Regions from separate parts of the Homo sapiens genome. Here all the other regions are linked to region 2. The links come from fine-mapping of genetic effects on gene expression. A gene starts in region 2. Each other region holds a variant in brackets. All regions are shown on one strand. Distances are between the middles of the regions.

Region 1 (7,154 bases), 41 kb before region 2:
TTAGTTTAATCAGAATGAAGAATCAGTGAGGCCAAATTTTTTATGTATGTTTGTTTGTTTGTTTGTTTGTTTTTTGAGACAGAGTTTTCGCCCTTGTTGCCCAGGCTGGAGTGCAATGGCGTGATCTCAGCTCACCACAACCTCCGCCTCCCGGGTTCTGGTGATTCTTCTGCCTCAGCCTCCCAAGTGGTTGGGATTACAGGCATGCACCACCACACCTGGCTAATTTTGTATTTTCAGTAGTGACAGGGTTTCTCTATGTTGGTCAGGCTGGTCTCGAACTCCCGACCTCAGGTGATCCACCCACCTTGGCCTCCCAAAGTGCTGGGATTACAGGCGTGAGCCACTGTGCCCAGCCCAAAATTTTATATTTAGTCTTTGAATGAGCCATTTAAGGAACAGCTGTGCTGGTTACCCTTGTCTAATTCTCAGTGGTCATGAGGTGGTGCTGTGGTCTGAATGTTTGTGTCCCTCTAATATTTATGTGTTGATAAAAAGAAACAAAATAATGGCATTTGCAGTAACCTGGATGGAGTTAGAGATCATTATTCTTAATGAAGTAACTCAGGAATGGAAAACCAAGCATATGTTCTCACTTATAAGTGGGAGCTTAGCTATGAGGATACAAAGGCATAAGAATAATACAGTGGACTGGCCGGACGTGGTGGCTCACGCCTGTAATCCCAGCACTTTGGGAGGCTGAGGTGGGCAGATCACAAGGTCAGGAGATCAAGACCATCCTGGCTAACACGGTGAAACCCCGTCTCTACTAAAAAATACAAAAAATTAGCCGGGTGTGGTGGCGGGTGCCTGTAGTCCCAGCTACTCGGGAGGCTGAGGCAGGACGAGAATGGCGTGAACCCAGGAGGCGGAGCTTGCAGTGAGCAGAGATTGCGCCACTGCACTCCAGCCTGGGTGACAGAGTGAGACTCTGTCTCAAAGAAAAAAAAAAAGAATAATACAGTGGTCTTTGGGCACTCGGGAAAGGATGGGAGGGGAGCCAGGGATAAATGACTACACATTGGGTACATTGTACACTGCTTGGGTGATGGGTGCACCAAAATCTCAAAAATCACCGCTAAAGAACTTCTCCATGTAACCAAGCACCACCTGTTCCCCCAAAAACCTATTGAAATAAAAAAAAAATAAAAGAAAAAAACATATTGAAATCTAATCCCCAATGTGTTGGTATTAAGAGGTGGGGCCTTTGGGAGGTGACTAGGCCATGAGGGTAGAGCCCTTGTGAATGGGATCAGTGGTTGTATAAAAGAGGCCCTTTGACCTTCCGCCATGTAAGGACACAGGGCACCATCCATGAGGAATAGGTCCTCACCTCACATGGAATCCGTTGGCTCCTTGATCTTGAACTTCCCAGCTTTCAGGACTGTGAGCAAGACCTTTCTGTTGTTTATAAATTACCCAGTTTAAAGTATTTTGTTACAGCAGCAGGAATGAACTAAGAGAGGTGAGTTGTATGATGGTGTGTGGTTATGATAGGAGGATTTATTCAGAGCCCACCTTCTACTTGATTGGGCTTTGCAATCATCAGTCTCTCTCAGGAGAATCACAGACTTCCTGTGACCCCGCTGTTGTAGTTAGAGTACTCTGTGCCCTCACATGGCTCTACCTCCTGATCAGCTTTTCATTTAGTTGTGGCCTGCAGGGAGACCAGTGCCTTGGAAAGGCAAATGTAGTTTCTGTCTCTAAAGGTCTCTTGAAATCAATACAGAACATAAATTTTGTACCTACCAGTCCATAGTATTAGGAAAGATTTGTGATAGTTTTGCTTTGGAGTAGAGAAAAAATATAAATTAGAATTTAAATTATTTATTCCTTCTGCAAGCAAAAGCAAATATTCAAATTGGATGGGCTGTGTTCCTTCTTGTGGTGTTAAGCAAAAAACTTCAAGCAATAGGCACTAACTCAGAAAACTGTTCTCCATGCTCTTAGGAAGCATCCATGAGAGATTTTTGTTAAATAGCTGCTAATCCAGCATCCAGGGGTTCACAGTTTGTGTTAGCTCCATGGAAGAAGCTTCACAGGAGGGGGAGCTTCTCATTGATGAAATGGCTGGATTCATGGAGTTCTTTTTCCTTAAGCTGCTTGTTTTATTAGGTAATGCTATCTTAACATAGACATATTTTCCTATGTATTGTGAACATAGGGGCATATATTCTTGTTTGCCTACACAGTCCCAGTTGAAACCTGTTGTGCCAGCTCAGCAAGCAACACTTTCACTCTCAAAAGTGTCCTGGTTTTGACAATAAATTACATGAGCCATTCTAATTTATAATTATAAGGGAATAAAATGATCGAAAGTGTATGATTGATTGGCTTAAACTAATGTTCTCATAGTTAGATATTGTCTGTTATGCTTATTAATCAGTTTTTTCAGGCTTTAGTTGAGAGGGCTTCCCAGCTTCAACCCAAGCCTTAGAAAGTTACTTCTTCATCTCTAATTAGGGGCAATGCTAGTACTTCCTTATGGGTTTGTTTTGGGGATTAAATGGGTTAATACAAGTCGGGTGCTGGTATGTAGGGAGTGTTCAGTAGACATTAGGTATTTTAATGTTATTAGAAAATAATCAGTCAATGTTAAAAGTTCTAGAAAAGAGTATGCAAAAGACTGGCAAGGAGCAGAAAAATCAAGACCTCAAGTAGTATTGCCATCAATGTAAATCATGGCAGTTGGTTTATTTTTCCTCTCTCAGATGGCACAAAGTAAGAGGTGGGATACAGGTCTGCCTACCTCCAAAATCCTTTCTTATCCATGAGACCAGACTTGCTACTGCTGGGGTTGAGCTACAGTGGGTACCAGGCCAGGCAGGGCAGAGACCTGCCTTGTCTATTTCTGGGGGTGGAGTGGCAGGATTTGGTAAAAGGTTGTTAATGGGAATGAAGAAAAGAGGGCACTCAGATTTTCAGTTCAGGGGCCTGGGTATATGATGGTATTGTTAAGTGAGTTCAAGGGTAAGCGGCCTCCTTGGATGGGGTGGAGACAGAAAGTATTGCAGTCCTGGTGACAGCATGGACTTTGTAGTCAGACACCAGAGCTTCAAAACCTGTCACGATCACTTCACTTCCTAGCTAGGTGTGCCTCGGTTTCTTCATCTGTAATAGGATATCTACTATATAAGGTTCTTGTGGCGATTTAAAGGTTTATTAAAAAGTAAAGCATGTAGGACAGTGACTGATGAGCACTGTGTAAGATTTGATCATTATCACTATTTTTAACTTGCCTCTTTAGGG[A/G]TTTCTATGGGAAGTATATCTATATATCTACAGTTATCTTTCAAATAGCATTTGTACAAAACTTCAAAGCAGTCATCTATTGAAGCTTTTTAATAAACTTTATAGAAATCATTGCTTTCTTTTTTTACCATTTTTGTGATTAATAGAAGCGGCCCAGAAAAAGTTTACCCTTTATTTATTAATACTCTATCCCTTCCCAAATTTGGTTGGTACCTGCTGATATCTAGAGATCTGGGATTCTATATTGCTTGAAACCTTGGTCATATTCTTCTATCTTTCCACAAATGGCTCAGGAATCCAATCAGGGTTCTCAATGTAGGCATTACTGCCCCAGAGAGTATTTGTTGATTTCAGGATATTTTCTTGTTGTCCCTATGTTCAGTGGCTGGGACCATGAATGCTTTATAGCATGCAAAGTATGAGGCACAATTCTTACACAGTGAAGAATTGTCCCATGCTGCTTATAGGAGTGACCCATTAACTTTCCCATGGGTGAAAAACTTGTTCATTAATATCTGAGCCTATAATTTAAGTCTATTTTACATATAAATGTATTTTTTCTGGTTTAATAGACACCAGCCTAATTTTTCCAAGTATATAGCTACTGTCTACTAAATACTTTATTTGGAATCTTGTCAAGAATTATTTATTTTGGAGATCCACATCACTAATGGTAATGATATAAGTTGTGTTTGGGTCACAAATATTTGTATCTGTTAAAAATTCACATAATTAAATGTATAGATCCAAGCATTTGACCACTTCATGTTGAATGAATGAATGACATTATTTCAAATAGTTCTGCCTAAGCATTTACATGTTCCATTACATGTCATTATATATTTTTCTCTCCGTTTTTCCTTTGAATTATGATTATGGTTACATATACACTTGCAGGCAGGCCTTGATTTCACAGTTCTGACATGTATTTGAGTTATCATGATTTAGTTAAATAATACCAGTCTCCCTGCAACAGTCCAAATTTTAGTTACCACATTATATTAACTGTAAGTAGTTGCATAAAGCTATCAAACTTAATTGATAGCTCTCCAGTTCGCAGCTCATCATGTAAATAACATACAGGAGTGGCCAGTCATCTCACTTCTTTCAAAGTCTGTTGGAGATTGGTCACTGCACATCTGGTATTCAGTTCATGCACAGGTGGCAGCAAAGTGTGTAGTTGTGTTGCCTCCTTGTTTGCCAATAATAAACTCCATGACATTTTACAAAAAGAGATATTTGAAAGAGGGTATACCAACAAAAATTAAAGTTCAGGAGAGAAATGAAAAGTGATAATATAGGAAGTGAAATTTGAATCACAGGCATATGGAAATACAAAAGAAATAGCTAACCAGGGGAAGGTTAAACCTCTATAATATGCTGTTAGATGAACTTAATGAAGGCAAAGTTATTAACATCTACAGGGAACGGATGAGCTATCCCAGAGTAAGTGATGCTGACAAGAAACTTCACAATTAAGGAATTTTTGAAATATTTCATGACGTAGAAAGCACAAAGGATAAAATGTTGGAAGTTGACTCATACTTACAAAGGTACATGACAATTCTATAAGGCATAGAAAAAGATACTCACTCTGTATTATAAGTTATATACTGAGAAGAAGTCAAGAACTATTCAAGGACGTATGATATGGTTCAGGTTTTTTGCAAAATACGTAGAGGTAATTCATCGTTGGGTAATTGACAGATGGCTTTCTGTGTTACGAAAGATATTTTGCTTCAGGCTAGCAGTAACCATCTTAAGCATTGTATATAGCTTTTTAAGACTGTTTAAAAACTATCATGGGTTAAGGGGCTGATTTACATTCTTTATGCTAAACTTGTTAGCCTCAATTATACATGCTATGTGTTTGTCTGCATATATATTTATGTAAATGTGTCCAGAATGTTGAAAAGTCTTGCATGTAACATTTAAACCTATACCTAGACTTGGAGACCCTGGGGAACCTAGTATCTATTTGCAGATTCTTGTCATAGGCTGATTAAATCAGATGTATGGTTCAATTCTAGGAGTTGCTGGGGAGTCTGCCCAGACTACAACCACTGAATATTCTCGAACACAATTTTTTTTTTTTTTTTAAAGACAGAGTCTTGCTCTGTCACGTGGGCTGGGGTGCAGTGGTGCGATCTCGGATCACTGCAACCTCCGCCTCCCAGGTTCACCCGGGTTTGAGCAATTCTTCTGCTTCAACCTCCTGAGTAACTGGGATTACAGGTGCACACCACCATGCCTGGCTAATTTTTGTATTCTTTTAGTAGAGACAGGGTTTCACCATGTTGGCCAGGATGGTCTTGAACTCCTGACCTTGTGATCACCTTGGCCTCCCAAAGTGCTAGGATTACAGGCATGAGCCACCACTTCCGACCGTACTCTAACATAATTCAAAGAGAAGTTGGCCAGTTTACTTTTATTAAAAATGTTTGCCTAAACTGAAATAAAAGGAATTTCCAATTTAATTCTGTATCTTGAGTTTCCAACTAAGGAGAAAAAGAGATGTGTGTCTCTAAGGATGACTTTTTTTTAAATCATTTTTATAATTTTAGATGATTTCCTTTCATTGTGGCTTATAAGAAAACTTCAAGAGTATTCAAAATGAAAGTTGCATTCAAAGTGAATCTTAGGAGTTTCTTGATAAATTGATGGAAAATTTTATTTAACACTGGTAGTCTTACTCCTCCCTATTCAGTTCTAATGATGATTTTGTATACTTTTGAAACTATAAATTATACATTTTTAAAATTTTTCTATAAGTTAATTTAGAAAGAACAGTCTATTTGTAGCATTTTCCCATGAAATTCATGTTATTACAGCCTTGTTTTTTTTTTTTTTTACATCTGTAACAAAACTTCTTGACAGCATTAATTATTCTCATCAAGCATTTCCATATTACACTGAACTAGGCAGCTGCAGGATACACATTTGTATACATTAGCATTAATAAGGATGTTTAAAGGAAAACTTTAGCAAAGTGCTAGGCTGTGTTACTGTGAATTCGAATGCTGTAAATAGGACAAAAATTGAATTTTCTTCACCTGTTTTGTGAATTTTACCACTAGATGGTGATGGAAGACTGGGGAGTGTGCTGAATTCTGCATCTACTATGATACTTGTATTATGTTGAAAATCGAAAATGTTTGTTCTTAAGTATTTAATTTTAGAAGTCATTTAGGGGTATCCAGAGATTCTTTTATGTATCATGCTGAGCACAGTATCTTTTTATATGGCGTGTGCTTAGTATTTATTGATAATTGGCTTCTTGTGGTGCTTAGTCTGGGTACAGTCTTTATAAGATTTAAATGGTTCCTACGCTTTATTTTGTCCTTGTTTTCTGTTTTTTTTTTTTTTTGTTTTTATTTGTTTTTTTCTAGTATGTCACATTTCCTTATGGTGGTCATTACATGTTTTTATGTTTAAGCTGTATTTATTCTCGTTTGCATGTGTGCACACACACAAAATTTTGACGTATTTAAATTTCTGCATTCCCTTAGGCACCACATTCTCTTGAAACGATGGTTGAGAAACAAAATACTATTATACAATTTCAAATTGAGGGTAAAATATTTATGAAGTGGTTTAATGAATATAACAGTCAGTAACACACACATTGAAAGATTTTCTACAAGATCAGTTTCTCTGAATGTCAGTTTTATGAAGAATGGAAAATTTCCTTTTGGAAATTCTCTGAATATGTTTCTTTTCTGCATAAAAGGAAGAATAAATACACTATTTATTGCTTTCTGAGAAGATTCTGAAATACTGAATGTAATCCAAAAGCCCTAAGTAAGAAATTTTGGATTTCAAATTTTAGATTATTCCCAAAAGCCAGTTTTGAAAAAGCAATCAAATGTAATTATTTTATTCAATATTAATAGAGTATTATGTAA
Region 2 (7,154 bases):
ATGCAGTTATTTACATGATTATAGTCTATTTGTGATTGTGTAATGTACTCAGTAGAGGTAATATGGATTTAGTGGCATCCCTAATAGTAATGATTATTTAATTCTTTTATCAGAGAGAATGAAGATCAGACATCAAGAGTACTTTCTAAAGGTGTTTGTTATATTCACAGTTACAAATTTTACTTAACCATTATCAATAGTGCATAGCTAAAGGATTTTGTCAATAGCTTTAAAACTTTGGATTTGGCTATTCCATGATCCTCCTGTTGTCATGATCATTCACTAGTGACCCCAGGAGCACCACAATTTTCAGGCCCTACATACATGTTATAGGAGAGTGGACAGAGCTTGAGCTTTCATTTCAAGAAATTTATGTTGTCTTTGGATAATAAAAACATCAATGAGAATTGGCTTCCCTTTTGCTTCTCTAATACATAAAATAAACCAAATGGGCTTTATTTTATCAAACATTTATTGATTGCACAATGAAACAATCTCTCCTTTCAGATATATACATCAGTTACTAAAAGAGTAGATACAAAGGTCAGGAAGTAATTACAATGCAATGTGATAAGTTTAATAATATAGGTGTGACAGCATACAGAGGAGGGGGTGATTGGGTTTGAGGTGATGGTGGGATATTGGCCAGGTAATATTTCATGGACCAAGTGATGACAACATAGGGTTTCACAGATGGATAAGAGTCTTCCAAGTGTACCAGGGGGAAATATACATGTGTGGTGCCAAAACAGAGTATGGCATTTTCTGAAAGTTAGAAATTTATACAAGAGTATAAAGTTCAAGAGATGGATAAGTAGCTAGGAGGTAAGGCCAGAAAGGTAGGCAAGTTCTAGGGCCTTTGAGGCCATGGAAGAAAACGTGGGCTTCACCCTACGATGGTCGTGTTGGAGCTCGTGGCACATTTACAGAGCTTAACTACTCCTTTATGTATTTTTTCTAGAAGATGTAGACTCTTATCCATCATTTCAGAAAGCCACATTTTACTTTTTTGAATCACAGAAGGATGCAAGAAAAAATACCAAGGTAAATAAATACAAGCAGGGTCACCATCCTTTGAAAAATCTCTCAATATGGATGTTACTGATTGTGGGTCAGCAATTACGTCTTTGTATGTATCGAGAATAGCAATTCTATTTAAAACATCTGTAGACCATGGACTGTAGGTCGTATTATGGGAGATACCAAGAAAATCTGGCATGTCTGTCTCTCAAGAAGCTTTAACATTTTTAGCGGATGCAGTCAAGAATATAGCTAACTAGAAAAGGGAGATCTGCATTGAGAACCCTATCACACACCCAAACAGTAGAAGTATTTGTTTTTAATGAGGAGGGTGGGGCAGGGGGATAGGGGTTGTGGTCCAGGAAGGCATTGCTGAGTAGGTGCCATGTTTAACCATCATTAGAGTATTTGCTGGACAGAAGGAGAATTCCAAAGAATAGTTAACACAGCATTCTCACACTTGAATTGTACACACTTAAGGTGTAAGCAAAGTGGCTTAATAATGGTGCTTGTGCCTCCTATGGTATATTATTGTAATGTGAAAGAGGCTGTTTGTAATTGTAAGGAGAAAATCCTTTACCCAGGATTTCAGAGGTCTTGCTGACCCACTTCAGTTCCTCAGACTCTTCAAGTCTGCATCCCTTTCAACCCCTGGCTGCAGTTTTCAGCAATGGACTTCAAGAGTTGGGCGTTTTTTTTTTCTTTCAGCACATATCTACATTTAAGGGGCACAAAAGCAGTAGTGTTATGTGAATTGTGGAAAAGAATGTGAGAAGGTGTTTGGAGGGGAGGTTTGTAGGGATATACGTTTCTCCTTAGTCTTTTCCAAAATGTTAAAGTGAAATGCTCTTGAAATTAAAAAAAAAAAAAAAGAAAGAAAGAAATAATGACCTCTAGTGGCCATTTGTATCCTGTTGCATTCTCTTAGTAATGGTTCATTCAGCTTATGAATAGATCTATGTGGATTTAAATTTTATATAATCTTTTCTGTACACGAGGATAATAAAATGTAAGAGAGCATTTGTTCCAATCTTTTTTTCTTGGTTAAATTTGATTTCCACATTATCTACGGAAGTCTCATCAATAAATAGAAGTTAACCCTATGTACAGTTGTCAGCCTAAGGTTATGTTGTCTGTCTGACTGCTATGATTTTCTTGGCTTGATGCTGTGGTCTTTCTCCCTTGCATACATGGTAGCTTTTCTGTGAATTTTTTACATAAGAATATGTATATTAAGGGATCCATACAAATGTTAGTTGCTGCCAAAAAGAGAGTTGTTTCTTTAGCAATAAACAGTTGATTTTGCAGTCTACAGTCAGTCTTATTGTTGGTTTGACTGTGAGTATATGGAACTCTGGCAAAATGAAATGGAGCAAAACACACAAAGAAGACAGCCACGACAACAAATACTTTGCCTTCCAGCTTTTTGTTGTTTTTTCTGTCCTTACTTTTGGACTTTCTATAAGAATCATATACTTTTTTTGCAATAACCACATAAAACACAAGCATTAGGATAAAAACAGTCCAGAAAATAAACTGGCATATGTTATTTACCATTTGATGCCATTTCAGCCCCAGAGGCCCCTTTAAGGAAGCACACTTTTTCACAGACGATGGTGTTGCTTCCTTGTTGCTCAAGATCGTATTTGGCAGGGAGATGAAGAACAAAAAGAACCAGATGAAGATTGAGACCGTTTTTGCAAAAACAGGTTTTTTTAGAAAAATATTTCTCAAAGGTCTGATGATCTTGAGGAATCTGTCAAAGGCTATGAGCCCTAACAGCACGATGCCCACATACATGGTCTCATAAAATATCACCGAAGAAAAACGACACACAAAAGCTCTGAGCTGCCAGGGTGCCAGGTGTGAGTCAGAGAGGATTTTGAAAGGAAGCATGAGTGTCATTATCAAGTCGGCCACCAAAGTGTTTTTGAGGTAGATGATGAAGGTGGAGGAGCTGGGGATGTGAACAAACACCCACAGAGCCAAAGTATTCAGCAGGATGCCGGTCAAGAAAACCACTGTGTAGAGGGCTGGGAATACCAGCTGTACTATCCGAGTGTCTCTGGGGCACCGCTCAGATCTGTTGAAGCCTTGCATCACTGTGGTGTTCATTGCTTCCAGTGTCACCTGTTACCAATAAACATATATACAAACAAAAGAAAACAAAAAGCCCTTCATGATTTTCAAATGCTATTTTTTAAAAACAGACTTTATGTTTATAGCATATTAACATCCTGCATTTATCCAACACTTTCAATAGATGTGTTGAAAAGGAAAATACTGTTTTCTGGCTAGAATTTTTAAAGCATATAATACATTTTTGGTACTTTTAACAGTACCATTACTTTCACATCCTTGTGAAATCCAAATAACAGGTTCTGCCTCATTCACAGGTGCTACTGTTAGCCATAAAACAAAACACTGTTTAAGAGATAATAATACATTATTATTACTAATACATCAGATTGCTGTAAATTATGTAATTTCTTATGCTCATAAACTATGGTTTGTAGAATATTAACTTTAAAGCACCTTTTTTCCCTTAAGCATATTCTTTTATATAAGCAAGCACACTCATAATAACAAAAATTGAAATTCACCTTTGGGAGGATACTCAGTTCTCTCTGTCTTCTTATGGCGGCAGTCATTAGTTCAGCCTACAAATGAGCATGTGAAGCAAATGTTCTGCTTTCTTATAGTGGATTTCCTTCCTTATTTTTACTTATGTAATGTGACCCATTAGAACCTCTTCATATTTAGACCTTTGGGACATTTGCTAATACTCTATTTTAGTTCAAACTTTCATACTGTTAATCTGTGACTTGAATAAAGAAGCTTATTTGCAATTATCTTTAAATTTCTTCATAACTTTCTTGAAGTTTATCTTCTTGATCTGCATGTTCAGTGAACTTTTTGAGTGCCTCTTGTATATAGTGGAAAGTAGAAAGATGAAGAAAATAGTCCCAAATTACAATCAAGTAGGAGAATAAGACTACCTAAAATCAGACAGAATAATCTTCTGTATCCTTGTAAACTGGATTTTCCAGTAATTTGTGTTCAGGAAGACGGTATGTTTATTTTTGTAGGTATTTGACTTAGTCTTCTGGTTTGGGGATCTCTGAGAGTTAACATGATGTTTTCTGAGAGGTGAAGACTATTAGATCCAGATTTTTGGAGTTAGAATCCCAGTTCCACCAATTAATTGGGATTAGATTATAGATAAATGATTCAACAGCTCTGTGTCTCAATTTCCTCATCTGTGTAATGGGTTTGAAAATAGTATCTAACACACTGTGTTATTAAGAATGAATTGGTTGCCTGGAATAGTGCTTGACATATAGGAGGCACTAAAAAATGTTAGCCACTTTTAGTGGCTTTTAGTCCCATTGCCATGGGAATGAATTGCAAATCCAGATAGAGATATTATACTCTTTCACTTAGTAGAGGGCCATTTTTAGAAATCTTTTTTGTATTTGGTGTATTTCGAGTGCAGAGGACTTCAGGAATTTCATCAATCAACATTGGGCCAATATCTGTGCATTTTTTTTGCTTTAATTCTCTTCAAGTTTGAAAGATGTAATGGTGCTTTTGCATAGAGAAAGTTGTTGTCCATGGCAGAAATCTACTTGCCAGGTAGGCATAGGAAAAGCGGAAATTAGGAGATCTTACGGAGGATGTGGAGTTCATGGTGAGTTTCATTTCATGTTTCTTGCCACAAGTGTTACCATGGAGTTAGACGAGACTAGTGTTAGTTGATCACAAAGTTTTGGGTGACTTGGCTTTGAATTCTGAGAAGAAAAACTTAATATCCCCCTGGACATTTTAAAATATGAGGCAATACAGTGTCTAATAGTTTTGATTAGACTACCCAATAACGGCACAGTTTGAAAAATTTCTCTTTGACTGAAATAAATTAATCCTTGGGAGTATAGATTCAAGATTTCATTAATAGAACATACATGTATGTCTTAAACATAAATGTATATCTTTTTGTTTGCTTCAGCAGAGGAAAAAAAATCCTTTATTTCTTAAGTAGAGAAATTTAACCTACAAAATTAATTGTAAATTTTCCTATAGCCCCAAATCCATAATCTAAAGGAAGATCTGGAATAGTTTTTCTTTAAGCAAGATAAATTCTGTGCAGGATAATTTCATAATCTGAAAACTGGAAATCACTTCTTGGTCAAATTTCAAAACACTGAAGTGTGGGAAACTTTCCAAAGAGGAACTGACTTACAGTGCCTGTTTCTAGAGTTATGGAAATAGAGTCTCTTAAATGTGGTAGATGTCAAAGTGTTTGACTATAGTAAATATCCAATAGATCATTCATTTCTATGTGTTTGTGCTTCTTATGTATTAGCTGATTTTTCCTTAGTTTACAGCAGCACTATTGCCTGCTGGGGAGGCCTTTTGCCCTTGAAGACACAGCTGAGAAGCTGCTCAGCAGAATGTTTAGGCGCCAGAGTGCCTGGGCTCAATTCCTTTTTCCAATTCTTTCTTTTCTTATGACCTTAGGCAAGCTGCTTATGCCCACTATGAAATGGTTGCCTTATCTTTACAATAAAAATAAATAATAGTATTTGCTTTACAGTGTTGTTAAAAGAATAAAATGAGTGAACATTCACCAGTGCTTAGAATAATGTCTGTCATGTGGTAGGTATCATGTAGGTTTCTTGTTAAATGAAATTGAAAGAAAATTGGAATGTTGTGCATACATATGGTGATGTCTCACGAAAGGAGAGAAGAATCAAAGAAGATACAGTGAAAGATCCCAGAGGCTAGGAGCCTATCAAATGGGAATAAACTAAACATTTAAGATCCTATAGGGCTCTAAGGAAATGTAGTTAAAAATCAGTAAAGTCACACTAGCTATACTGTTTTAAGTGATTATATTATCTTATTTAATCCTTAACAATCCCCAGAGATTGGTCCCATTTTTAGAGTTGAGAAAAAAGGAAATGCAGAAGTTAAGCCATTTTCCCCATATCATGCAACCCAAATCTGCCGTAAAGTCACACAGTTGGTCTGGTTCCAGAGCCCATGCTTGGAACCTGCCTCACTCTCTTGCCTCCGATTAAGCCATAGATAGGGTGACAGTGGAATTGTTTGCCAAATTCTGGAGTTCTTGAGCTGAAAGTTCCTGATGTGTGAGAAGGAAACAATCAGCCACAATGTTTAATGGACTTGTGAAACTTTATGCCAATGTAAATTGAGTGAAAGCAGTGTGATCAGAAGGGATACAAAGAAGATAAAATGAAAAGTCACAGAAATCAGTCTCTAGCCAGATAGGAATAAACTACTATTTCCATTTGTAGTCTTATTTGGGATTTCTCAGTTGCATCAAAATTGACAGTCCAAGGCCCAGTACCATATAAATAATATGTGAAAAGATGAGGAAGTATTTGCTTTCATTTGGGATGAAAATTGAAGTAGGAACTCCTATACTTCTATACTCTTAGAAAAGACTTTTACTTCCCATCAAAGTATACCATGGTACTTTCTCAGATTATGTGAAATTGTTTTAAAAATTCCATACAAGAGTAACTAAAAGTGGTAAACTAAAAGTGGTAATAATAAGCTGAAATAAGTTATACTTTTTATTAATGTAACAATCTGTTTTTCTGAGTAAGAACAATAGTAGAAAATATCTACATGTAGCTAGAGATAGGCAATAAATTCACTGCTATTTGGAACATTTAATATTTCACACTATGTTTAAAAATTGAAATACAAACATATATAGTAGAAAGTGAAAGTTAATACATATACATACCAATATATGTGTACAAATATATTTACATTTATTTATGTATTGGATTTTTGTTTCATTCCATGTTAGTACATGTAGACTGACGTGATTTTTTTTTTAACTTTATTTTAGGTTCAGGGGTACATGTGCAGGTTTGTTACATAGGTAAATTGTGTTTTGTAGGGGTTTGGTGTACAGATTATTTTGTCACCCAGGTGATAAGCATGGTACCGGATAGGTAGTTTTTCAGTCCTTACCCTCCTCCCACCCACTACCCTCAATGTAGGCCCTGGTGTTTGTTGTTTCCTTCTTTGTGTCCATATGAATTCAATGTTTAGCTCCCACTAACAAGTGACAACATCTGGTGTTTGGTTTCCTGTTC
Region 3 (7,154 bases), 44 kb after region 2:
AAAGGCTTTGAATGATTAGGAAGTCTTCAAGTCAGACTGCCTAATTCCAACTTTGGGTACCTTCTTTTGGTCTTGACTCTTATGTTCAGAAGTAGCTCCCCTTCATTAGAACAGAAATTACTGAGTGGATAGGAATTGCTTTAGATGAGTCCTAAATAACATGTTTTGGGCTATAATCTTGCTCTGCTTTGGAAATGTTATTTGGTGATGATGAGGAAGGATAACAGAATTTTCATAAAACAAGCTATTAAAACTTCACCTTAAGAAAGGATACACACACGGGCCTGTGAATTTTGTAGTAAAAAGGGGAGGTAGAGCCACGTCAAGGACCACAGCCTCCTCTGAGTGTAGGCGCTTATAGATTTATACAGCCAACATTAAGTGCTCATTTCAGTGAGTAGAATTTCCCTACTGTGATCATATTTGAAGGGAAGGTCAGTTGGTCGGTTCTACTTAATAAATAAATGTAGGGACCATAGAGATAGGGACTGGCTTTTTTACCTGTGGTATTTCTAGTGCTCATCAGAGAAGCTAGCAAAGAATCAGTTTTCAATAAAATTATGTTGGAAGTGTGAATCTATAAATGACAAATATGCTAATGGCAGAAACCAAGATGAGTACCTTCTAGACACTGGCCCCATGATTTGTAGGATTAGTCTAATCTCAAGTAGAATTTGCCCACCTCTTCATCCACATAATTTGGAGGATTCCCTGGGTCTAAGAAGTCAGGATCAGGTCAGTTTAACGTCAGCAGAGCTTTGAGCCAGGTGGGCACTGAACGCTCAAATGTATTCTATTGTCAATGCAATTGCAGAAGGCCTGGCACAGACTCTCATACCTTCTCTGTTGTCCTAACATCTAAACTAAATGAGGATCTCCTAGTATGGGGCTAGCAGGTACTGTTTTTTCTCTTTCTTTTCTTTTCCTTTCTTCTCTTTTCTTATTTGCAGAAGCTCTAATTTATCCACCCTACCATGCCCTAACCAACTCTCAATTCCTATCCACCAGGATATATTTTGAGTTAGGGAGATGGGACCATTATATCAAATTTGGTTTTTAATTTCTACAATGTAACTCAAGGTATAGAGGTAGTTGTTTACATCACCTAACGGTAGTGAAAGCATACTACATTTTGGTACTTGCAGAATTTAGTCTTTTCTTTCAGCTCCTGAAGTGATCTATTAAATGAAATCCTGTGGGTAAAGTGAAGCTGGTACTCTTTGTGTTTGTATTTTAATGAGAAACATATGATTATATATTGATAAATTGAAATACATTATTTATTCCTCTCCTCTGCTTAAGATTTTGTTAGTAAATACTCAGTAAGCCATTTTTTTCAGCAAAGTCAAAACTTTTTCTTGGTTGACTTGTGGGTTTTAAAAGGCTTTTTCCATTAACTTGGGCATTGTTTTGCCCACTTGCTGCAAGCAGTGAAGGCCTACTGTAAAAGCATTTGTTGGTTCCAGGAAATTTTCTTGTCAAGGCCTATGATCCTGTGAGTAAAAGGCAAAAGTTTGAAGGCTGTGCTGTCATTTGGCAATCCTTATTTTGAATTTTTATTACTCTCTCACTTTTAAAATATGATAGTTATTTGTCTCTCATGGCTAGAGTTTTCTTATTTCTAGCTATTCAGACATTCTGTTTAGTTTCTTTCCCAGAACTTTGTTATGAAGAAAACACTTTCCTTAGCTTCATTTCACTAAGTATACTAAAGATTTATCAGGTAAGGTTTTCTAATTTGTATGTTACAGAGAGGAAGGTAAAAAAACAGGGGTTATTCAATGAATGCCCTACTTTTCAGGGCTTCCTTAGTATGCATTGCCCTTTTCCATTCCCAGGGAAATAAATCTCTCTTGTCAAGAAGTTGATAGTAAGGTGGGCTAAGGCAAAACTTTTCTCTTGACCTATGGATAGAAAATAAGTCATTGTAAGAGAAGAAATGGAAAAGGGACATCTAGAAGGGTGAGTAACCCATTTTTTCCTTGTCTATAAGTCAAATGAATTTGAATACATTCATGCTTGAAATATTGGTGAAACCAATGTTCTCTGATTACTTAGTGTGATTCATAATGGCCTTTCCAAGTTTGGTGAAACTATAATTATACAAACAAAATAAGGACCGAGTCTTGAACTTGCTTTTTCTCCATTTCTGTTAGAAACTTCTCTGGGTTCATGCATTTATGCTCTTGATCCATTCTCTCTATTCCTGAACAACTGGCTATTCAATAATAATACTGTTCATATATTTTAAATCCCTGAATGCTATCCTCATTTGCTCCTCAATTATTTGGCAATATTTTGAACTTCTGTGATTTTGCTTTTGTGATTCTATTACTTAGGAGATGCCAAAATTGGCAATAACAGTGTCAGCTCTTTAAAGAATGATGACTTCACCATGAGAGGTTTGCGATGTGATGGGAATGCTGATGATATCTGGACTGCCTCACAAAATCCAAAATCCTGTGGGAAAAGCATTTCCATAGAAACTGCCAATTTAAGAGAATACGCTAGATATGTACTGAGGACTATCTGTCAACAGGTATTCTAATTTAATTTGCCTTTTACTTTGAGTACGTAACTCTTCTTTTGGAGAGAGCTACTTACACTTATAGGAAACTTGTGCATAGGTGGGCCTTTTTTTCTTGCTCACTTTATTTCGAAATAATTTTAAGTTTGCTGAAAAGTTGCAAGAATTATTTTTAAAAAACTCATGTCCATCCTTTACACGGATTTACTAATTTTTACATTTTGCTACATGTGCTTTGTAATTTGTATGTGGAGATGTGGGTGCATATACCTATTTTTTCTGAATCATTTAAGAGTAGATTGTATATTTTATTCTTTTGAATATTGCATTATTTCATAACATAACCAAAATATAGCTATTAAACATCAGAAAATTTAGCTTTTGGTACAGTAATTTTTTCTCATCTATAGGCCACAGTTCGATTTTATTAATTGTCCCAGTATTGTTGGATTTGTCTGAGGTTTCCTGTAGATTAGCTTCAGATTATGCATCCCTGGCCAAGATACTACAGAAATAATCTTGAGTTCTTTCAGGTAATCATGTCTGAAGGCATGTGATGTCCATTTGCACCTCAAGGGTGATGTTAATTTTGATTAAGATGTTTCCATTGTATAGTTTCAAGATTAGTAACTATACAGTGGGGACTGTGTAGTTACTAATTTTCCCCTTGCAGTAAGCAATCTTTGAGGAGATACTT[C/T]GAGACAGTGCAAATTTTCTTCTCCTTGTTTAACTCCCCCACCCCTCATAAGCATTCATTTTCATTCTTGCCCAGTCTAGTCTTTACTATGATGGTTGCAAAATGGTGGTTTTTTTTTTTCCCCAACTTCTCCTCTCCCTTCATAATATCAGTTTGTGTCCTATTTTAAGGAAGAGCCTGCCCTCCTCTCCCCTGTTTATTTATTATCCATATGGGTTATAATATACTGTACTTAGTTATTTTCATGTTCAGACTGTCCCAGATTTGTGCAGTAGGAATCTATTCATCCTATCACATCATTTGACATTTTAAAAATAGTTGGTATTTTCATAGTTTCTGGCCCATGTTGTACTTTCTCTGCCCCGGGCCTGGAATCAACTATTCCTCCAAGGAGCCCTTGGTTCTATTTAGCAGAGAACGTTACTGAGAAACCAAGATCTGGGTATTATGTATGCTCATGGTTATGGAGTATCATTAATTCTACGACCTGTCTGCAGACAAAGCTAGAAAGAAAAATATATCCATACACTTAAATATATGTAAATATATATATTTATGAGGTCCTACTGATACCTTCAATTCCAATCCAACCCCACAAAGTTGTTCTGTGTTTTCCCCTAATTCATATTAGTATCACCTTCTTCCCTAGTAAGAATGCTGATTCCCAAAAACGTCAATTTACTTGTTTGTTTAATTCTATGATACATCTGAAATAGTTTTAAAATGTTACACATGGCCGGGCATGTTAAATGTGCTATCCAGCGCTTTGTCAAAAAATGATTAATTAAAATACAGTATCAAAAATGTACACTAGGCTAGGGCGCAGCGGCTCAAGCCTGTAATCCCAGCACTTTGGGAGGCTGAGGCAGGTGGATCACTTGAGGCCAGGAGTTTGAGACCAGCCTGGCCAACATGGTGAAACCCCATCTCTACTAAAAATACAAAAATTAGCCAGGTGTGGTGGCACATGCCTGTCATCCCAGCTACTTGGGAGGCTGAGGCATGAGAATCGCTTGAAACTGGGAGGCGGAGGTTGCAGTGAGCCGAGATTGCGCCACTGCACTCCAGCCCTGGTAAGAGAGCAAGACTCTGTCTCAAAGAAAGAAAGAAAGAAAGAAAGAAATGTTACACACATACCACTAGGAAGAACAAACCTACCTAAAAGGCTTTGAAGATTTGTTTGCAATTCCATTTTCTCTAAGGGTTTAAAATACTGTGTTCAAAAATTATTTGAACTTTTCCCATCCCTATGAGTGTATTCTTTATGTGAAATAGAACTAGGTTCATTTGGTTTTGCATTATTTAAATTCCTTTCTTGTCCCCAGCTCTGGCTATAGAATAGCTTACTTTCAAAAGTGAAACTATACAAAAAAGTATACTCAGAGATGTGTCTCCCTCCCATATCCCTCTTACCAGATGATCCAGTTTTATTATTTTTTGGTTTATTCTCCCTCCCATATATTTGTTTTAAAAGTTCTCTTATAAAAAAAAAGTGACATACCTTATATATTATTTTGTACTTTGCTATAGGTGTCATACCGACTGGGTCATGTTTTTGTATTTTTACAGGCATGTTATAACTATGGTAAAAGATAGCTACATAGTCATATAAGTATTGAGAGGCAATTGTGTGTTGGTTCCCAACTGTGAGTGCATATTGGAATCAGCTGGGGCATTTAAAACAATTTGGATGCCTAAAAAATTACTGATATTTGGGTGCCACCACCTGAGTTTGACTTAATTAGTCTGATGTGGGCCCTGGGCATGGAATTTTATAAAGATCCCAGGTAATTTTAGTGGGCAACCAGCATTGAGCCACTGGTATGGTGGTTAAAAAACAGACTTCACCCGAAATAGATCTGGGTTCAAATTGGGCTCTGTTACTGTTGATGATTTCTTACTTTATTTAGTATAATAATTTGCCTTTGAAAAAAATGGTAAAGAAAAGGCAATAGGAGTTTAAATTGGTAGAAACTCTTCAGAGGGTCATTAACCCCATGCATCTATAGCCCCCCACTCACACTGGACCCAGCAATTGCACTTCTATGAAATTACCCTAAGAAAATTATTGTATAAAAAAGAGATGTGCACTACTACTCATTTATAATGATAACATTATTCATAATAGTATCAAAAAGGAAGATCGTTTTCTAAATATTTGTTATACTATGTTGTATCTAGTCAGTGAGATAGTACAATGTATTCCATAAAAATTATGAAGAACGTATATCTGATAGAATCATTATATAGCAAGTTAGAAAAAACTGACACAAAATAGTGCCTAGAGCAAGACCTTACTTTCCAGTTAAAAACATACTAATATTCTCTTTATTGTCTTTTCTTTTTTCCCATTAAAAAATGTTTTTAAGCAAGTTCTACTTTGTATTTTTTAGAAGCCAAAATGCTAAAAATTTTGTTTTTTAAAATTTTTCTACCTACTTTTTAATGTAATTTTTTAAATTGGAAAATTCCTATCAGTTTTCTATTCAATTATGCACTGTGGATTTAGTACATATTGCATATATATATACCGAAAGCCAGTGCCTGTCAATCTAATTGCCATATTATTTTTAGGAATGGGTAGGAGAGCATTGCTTAAAAGAACCTGAAAGATTATGTACAGACAAAGAACTTATATTGGACCCTGTGCTTTCAAATATGCAAGCACAGAAATTACTGCAGCTTATCTGTTATCCTCATGGCATTAAAGAATGTACCGAGGGGGACAATCTGCAAAGACAGCACATTAAGCGTATTCTTCAGGTCAGTCGTATACAGATTGTGTTTCTGTCATTTGATAAATTCTTCGTAATAATAAAAAGAGTTACTTCCTCTCTTTTTTTGTCCTTGCTAATTTGTGATTTCAATTCTGATTTTTATTCCCACACATTTTCTGTGGAATTGACATACTTTATTTTTGGGTGGATGTACATGCTGCAAATTGTATATGATCATCAAACAAATATTGATATTTTAAATCAGTATTGTATTTACATGAGAAATATGCTTCAGAGAGGGGCTATGTTAAATATATTATTAAAGAAATATTGAAATCATTTTGGATTGGGATTGGTTAAATAGATTTTGAAAGGAGAAATGCTTATTTAGTTTCAGTGCATAGCTGAGTCAGGCACAGTATTAACTAATTAATAATTAATGTTTCTGTTTATTGGTTTGTATCGCTACTGAATATATATGCAGCAAGATTGGGAACCTTTTGACTCATATAAATTATTTCATTGTGTATGATTATTCTGCTCTTTCTTGAGAGAAGGAGTACTGTAAGAAATTACTGTATTTTAACACATTTGATACCCATAATGTTTTAATTCTTTCCATTTTTCCCAGAATCTTGAGCAGTGGACACTGAGGCAATCCTGGTTAGAACTCCAGCTAATGATCAAACAGTGCTTGAAGGACCCTGTGAGTTTATATTGAAAGCTTATCTCTGTATGAAATTTTATAAAAAGCAAAAACACGTTGATGTTTGAGGATAAAGGAATACACATATGTGCCAGTATTCTTATATCTAACTCTAGGGCTCTGGTTCTGTGGCCGAAATGAACAACTTACTGGACAATATTGCAAAGGCAACAATAGAGGTATTCCAGCAGTCTGCAGACCTAAATAATTCTTCTAATTCTGGCATGAGCCTCTTCAACCCAAACAGTATTGGAAGTGCTGATACAAGTAGCACGAGACAGAATGGAATAAAGACATTCCTAAGGTATTTTTGTCTGTTGTTTTATTGAACTGTCATGAATTTTTCACAAGTAACGGTAAATTTTGTGTAGCACAGTGATTTTTCTTTAAGTCATAGGAATGTGAAGAACATAGTTACTTGTAAGCAGGGATTATTATTAATAAGTTAATGAGTAAAGCTGGGGTGAATGATAGCTTCGGAATATTTGATTGAGTAGGCTTAAACAC

What was found.
Region 1: its variant is fine-mapped to the expression of P2RY13 in whole blood (TOPMed, PIP above 0.99).
Region 3: its variant is fine-mapped to the expression of P2RY13 in whole blood (TOPMed, PIP 0.95).

Annotation. Positions count from the first base shown.
Region 1 is chr3:151,284,550-151,291,703 of GRCh38, forward strand. The region is part of intron 16 of MED12L (mediator complex subunit 12L); the gene reads left to right. Among named protein-coding and RNA genes, the nearest start is that of P2RY14, 9.6 kb to the left of the region's middle. The variant A/G (reference allele first, on the strand shown) is at 3,250.
Region 2 is chr3:151,325,858-151,333,011 of GRCh38, forward strand. P2RY13 (purinergic receptor P2Y13) reads right to left here and starts at 3,692. Exons shown (of 2, transcript NM_176894.3): 1 at 3,624-3,692; 2 at 455-3,150. The coding sequence starts at 3,671. The coding sequence ends at 2,134. All of the region lies in intron 16 of MED12L (mediator complex subunit 12L), which reads left to right.
Region 3 is chr3:151,370,228-151,377,381 of GRCh38, forward strand. MED12L (mediator complex subunit 12L) reads left to right here. Exons shown (of 45, transcript NM_001393769.1): 27 at 2,340-2,539; 28 at 5,799-5,987; 29 at 6,573-6,647; 30 at 6,764-6,951. All of the region lies in intron 1 of P2RY12 (purinergic receptor P2Y12), which reads right to left. Among named protein-coding and RNA genes, the nearest start is that of P2RY12, 11 kb to the right of the region's middle. The variant C/T (reference allele first, on the strand shown) is at 3,225.